Linked DNA regions of Homo sapiens: region 2 is linked to region 1. A link means that fine-mapping ties the variant in region 1 to the expression of a gene that starts in the linked region. Tissue or cell type: whole blood. Region 1 holds a variant in brackets; the other region holds the start of a gene. All regions are shown on one strand. Distances are between the middles of the regions.

Region 1 (2,683 bases):
GCCCTCCTGTCCTCTGTGGTAAAATGCAGTTCTATGTGGCTGAGTGCTTTCAGGGAAGCAACTAGGGGTCATATCTAACCTTTGTGAAGTAACTACGGGTCATATCTAACCAGAAATGGCTCCCTCAAAACACAAGATGTCCCAGTTTCGAGTCTACTCCTCATAATGAAAGGAGACAATCACAAGGGAAAATTGTTGAAGGTCTTGGGGAATCAAGTCTGGAAAAGGTAAGCAAGGGAGCCATGACAGCTGCCTTCAAATATCACCAGGGTCCAGGGAGAGGAGCCCACCCCCGGGGGCAAGGCCTCCAAACCCGCTGTGGTGTGGCTCATTTGCTGCCAGGCCCTCCCACTCTCCCAGCACTGCCTCAAGCATCGCCCTCGCATTCTACTCCAGGTGTTCATTCCCTCTGGTAGGAAACAGCTCCATGCAAAGAAGCCAACATTCATCAGCTATTCAGTCTGCAAATACTCATTGAGTGAGAACTAAATGCAGAGCACTGTTATAGGTGCTGGGTCAACAAAACTGCGTCTAGGGGAGAGTCAGACAAGAGGCAAGTCAAGAAATAGATAGCCCAGATCATTTTAGATGGTGATGAGTTGCACAAAGAAAATAAAGGGGACATGCTAACAGGACTGCTTTGTGGGCCGGCAGCCAGGCAAGGAAGCAACACTGGAAATGAGGCCTGGATGACAAGAAGCCATCTCAACGAAGATTTCACCCCAAACACATTGGAGAGCCTTTGGAGGGTTTTAATCAGGCAGGTGATGTGATATGATGTATCTGGAGGAGAATATTCGGCAGCTGTGTGGAGGGTAGCCTGGAGAACCCCAGAGTAGAAGCATGAGGACCAGTTAGGAGGCTGATGAGCCTGGTCTTATGTCAAATAGTGTGCTAGATTCCCTGCCTTCACAGAGCCCTCAGTCCAGTGGGGGCACAATTACCAGATATTTTCTCTATAATACAATGTTGTGGGCAAAAGACAAGCAAAGGCAGATGATAAGCACAAGATGCCCAGAGAGTACAGAAGGCACTTTTTGCCGTCTTATTGGCTGTGGTGTGGGGGAGGGGGTAGAGGGGAGCCGGGGGGCAGGGGTAGAGGGAAGGAGAGAGAAGGAAAGCTTGCTTGGACTAATGCCCAAGCTGAGTTTTCAGAGGGCAAGAATTGCACTTCC[A/G]TGTGCCCAGTGCTGTGTTAGGCAATAAAAGAAATCAGAGAAACATAGGAAGTAAGGGCTCTTGCCCTCCAGATTTTTAGTTTGCTTTATCTTAAAACTTGAAAGGCTTCTTGTGTTGGCCAAGTCAAAATGATGAGACCTAGCCATTCTCACATCAGGGGCTTCTGATAGTCATTTTGTTGAGCCCAGATCCTTCTCCTGAGCTCCAAGAGCCTGATGCACAGGCTGGCATGGCTTGGCTTGTGGTGTACTGGAAGCCTGCCTGAAATATCCTCCTGAGGGCAAAGTATTGCACATATAGCACCCAAAAGAGTGTTATTGGTGTCCTTTATCACTCAGTAATGCCTTTGCCCAGACAGCTTTGTCAGGCTCATCATTCCAGCAGCAGCCAGTGAGCAGAAGAGGGAGGTCAGCCCCAAATTGGAAGGGGCCTAAAGTCTACTCTTGATGGAAATACATGAGGAAGATATGAACAGGTGAGCTCCCTGGAGGATGTGACGGTTGAGTCAGGCCATGGTGTATAAGCAGGTGTTCTAGAGCCAGAGAAGGGCCCAGGTAGCCTAGTGTCTGCAACAGAGCAGACACAAAAAAATGTTTGTGAATGAAGGGATGAAAAGGCACTTCAGACAAAGAGAACAAGAGGACAGCAGGAGCAAAACCCAAGAAGTTTCAAAGCCGTGGAGAAACTAGAGACTGTTCTAGAGTGGCTGGAGAATAGGGCCTCTGGGGGTGGACAGATGGTGACAGTGAGACAGGGCCTCCAGAAGCAACAGGGCCAATCCCTGGGCTCTGTGGATCTAACAGTGCTTGTGTTCATTTGCTTGTTCCACGACACCAGCCACAGTCACAGGGTCTAGTCTCTGTGTATTCATGAAGGGACTGGAGATCACTTGTGCAAACAGCACACTATATACATGAAAAAACTGAGGCTCAGAGAAGGGAAGCCATTCGCCCAAACTCACAGAGCCAAGCAGTTGAGCTGGGAGTCTAACCAAGCTCATTTGATTCCAAGTCAAGGGCCCTTGTCATTGTCCTTAGGTGCCGCTGACTGATGGATTTTGACCAAGGTTAGCAGCCCTTAAAATTTTTCTAGCCATGATTTAAGTTCAATTTGTGGTTCAGTGGGCTATTTGGAAACAAAATTACAGCTGGTGAATGTTTTCACAATAGCAAATGTGCTGGACTTTTGCTCTCATCGGTTAGTTGTTGGTTTTTTTGTTGTTTTTTTTTTTAACAGATTCTAATACTACTATATATATCAGAAGTGGTCCCAAATCAAGGTAAGTGCATCAAGGGAGTGGCCTAGTTTGCAGAACAGCTTGGTCTAGTTCAAAGGCCTTTAGAGGAAGATATTGCATAACTTCCCTTGGTTCCTTATCTTACACTGGTCAACTTTAACTATCCAAGCCACCCCTAAATATAACCTCAGTCTGCTTTGGTTTAAAATAATCTATACCTATTGTGCTGTGGCAGAGGGTGGGTCAGCTACAATCGTTACCTCCTGTCTA
Region 2 (2,683 bases), 24 kb after region 1:
GCTGGAAGCTAAAATTTAGCTTAGAGAACAGTATCAGTTGTTCTTATACTACCACCCTGTTCCCAAATCCCCGACCCATTTCAGAACCACTAGTAAAATCATCAGCTATAGTGTCATGGACTTTTTGGAATCCTTAAGCCTCAAATCCAATGGCTCAAGATGGAGGGGCTGGAAGGGAATGTGGGGCAGAGGCCAGGTGAGGGGTAAAGCAGGAAAGGCTTGTGAGAGGTAGGGTGGGATAACATAGATTTCTTTTTCTTCCTTTGGGTTTTCCAACCCTCCCTCCACACCGAGGAACCTCATTCCACAAAAGCATAAGAGAGAGGCATGAGGTATTGATGACTTTATTATTCTGCAGGTACATGTCCAGGGGCCCAGCCTCTGGGCCCAGTAACTCAGCTACTCTTTGTGGCTTTCTTCATGGCTTTTTTTGTGGGCTGCCACGCCCATCTTTATCACCAGAATGAGGAACTCCTGGAAGTTAACTGCACCATCAGTGTTGATATCCAACTCTTTGAACCAGACGTCTGCACCCTTTTTCTGTCAAGATTGAGGAGGAAGAAGCCAGAGTTTAAAGATCTCAGAGAGAGCCGAGGCATAGCCATCTATGAAGGGTGGCAGGGAGGACCGCTGGCCCAGGGCAGCCCCAGGACCAGGCAGAGAGCCCCCGCCACACCCAGCCCCTCCTCACCCTGATATACTGAGGACACTCGGTCTCTAGCAATTTCTTCAGGTCATCCCTGTAGACGGCATGGAAATTCCCCTTTATCAGGGAGTACTTGTGGTAGACGTCGATGATAGAGTTCAAGGCTTTCTCCAGCTCGGTCAACATGATGCCCACGGACTTGCCCCACCTGAAAAACAGAACCTTCTGGGGAATCCCATGGCAGGGAATTTGCATCTGGCCAGGGCAGTACGCAGAGGATTCATGCCCCAAGCGATGGCCTTGTCCTGGCCTGCACTCTCCAAATAACCAAACCAGCAGATGGCTATGGCTCTGGTGGGAAGGGTGGGATGATAGGGATACACGTGTGGGAAGGGGAAGGGTCCATTCACACAGAGACATGTGCACACACACGGGGCCCGTAGACTTTCCTTACCACCCCACCCTCTGCTCAAGAAAAGTCCAGCCTAGGAGACAATGTGCCCTTACCCACTGGAAGGTGCTGGAGGATACTCTCCTTCCTTATCCCTGCCTCACTCCCCACCTCCAGGAGTATCTTTGCTCCAGACCTCCCTGAGCTTTCTCTCTCCTCTCTCAGGAAGGCTGCTCCACTTCCCTGACCCTCCCCAAGAGAAGCCCAAAGTGCGGGGCCAACCCAGACAGTCCCACTTACCAGGTCTTCTGAAAGACAGCTGACAAGAGACATGCAGGGCTGAGAGGCAGCTCCTTTTTATAGCGGTTAGGCTTGGCCAGCTGCCCACAGCTTCAGGCCATCAGAGACAGCTTCTCCCTGCCAGAGTTGCTACAGTCTCTGGTTTCTCAACCAGGTGAATGTGGCAATCACTGTGCAGAATGAAAATTTTGGGTGGGGAGGTAGGAGAAGCGGAAAGAGGAAGGCATTTGCTGGGCAATAGTGCCCAGAAGGAAAAAGCAGGTAGGGGGGCTCTTTTTCTGGGCTGCTGGCATCCACTTGCTTGATCCAGCCAGATTCCCACTCCCATGCCCTCTCCACTATTGCGATTGCTAATCCCCTGCATTGGTGGTCAGGCCATACATCCCTGAAACTGAATTGAAGTTGAATGCATCATTTTGAGTGCATGCACTCAGTGAGAACATTCCTCCATGGCTTCTGTCAGAGTTTCAAAGGGTCCAAAGACCGCAAAAGGGTTGAGAACACGTGTCCTGGCTGATGGCTTTTAGTCATGAGAACTATTGTTCTCATTACTAAAAACTAAAACTATCGTTGTTGTTCTTTTGGGTGGGTGCTTTGTGGGGAAATGTGTTGTTGCCAAGGGCTATATCCATTCCTACCCTGCTGCCCACACTCCTCCACAGCTTTCCTGTTCTGTGAAGCTGGGGATGGACCATGCCCTGGGAGATGGAGGCTGCTTGGGGTCCCTCGGCACTTCACAAGGGCCTGAGCCATTGCATAAACACAGCAGGGAGCCTTTCACCCTCTCTTGGTTAATTATTGTGTCTGGGACCCCAGGATCACTGGCTGAAGAGAGGAAGCTAACTCTGAGGTAGTGGAGGGGAAGAGTTCTTTGGAGAAGCCAGACGCGCTTCATGCCTAAGAGGAGAAGAGGAGGTGGCCAATTCCCCAGGATTTCAGGAGGAACAAATCCTCTCCCCACCACTAACAAAATGCTACTCAGATTAACTGGCTTCCAACCTTGAAGACTGTGGTGTGTTTCTGTTGTTACAAAGAAAATATTTGTAAAACAAATATCTGATAAGGGATTAATATCCAGAATATAAAAGAATCCCTACAACTCAACAACAAAAAACAAACAAACCAATCAAAAATTGGGGAAAAGACTCAAATAGACACTTCTCCGAAGAAGATATACAAATGGTCAATAAGCATATGAAAATTACTAATCTTTAGGAAAACATGAAGCAAAACGACAATGAGATACCACCTGACACCTACAAGGATGACTACTACTTCTTTTAAAACCCAGAAAACAAGTGTTGGTGAGGGCATAGAGAATTGGAAGCCTAATGCACTGTTAGTGG

Evidence for each region. PIP is the estimated chance that this variant, and not a neighbour inherited with it, causes the effect.
Region 2: S100A8 starts here. The variant in region 1 is fine-mapped to the expression of S100A8 in whole blood (TOPMed, PIP above 0.99). The same link has a PIP of 0.9 or more in blood mononuclear cells and monocytes.

Annotation. Positions count from the first base shown.
Region 1 is chr1:153,366,131-153,368,813 of GRCh38, forward strand. No RefSeq gene overlaps it. Among named protein-coding and RNA genes, the nearest start is that of S100A12, 8.1 kb to the right of the region's middle. The variant A/G (reference allele first, on the strand shown) is at 1,176.
Region 2 is chr1:153,389,704-153,392,386 of GRCh38, forward strand. It overlaps S100A8 (S100 calcium binding protein A8), which reads right to left and starts at 1,370. Exons shown (of 3, transcript NM_002964.5): 1 at 1,338-1,370; 2 at 692-854; 3 at 329-540. The coding sequence starts at 832. The coding sequence ends at 400. RefSeq lists a silencer at 377-577.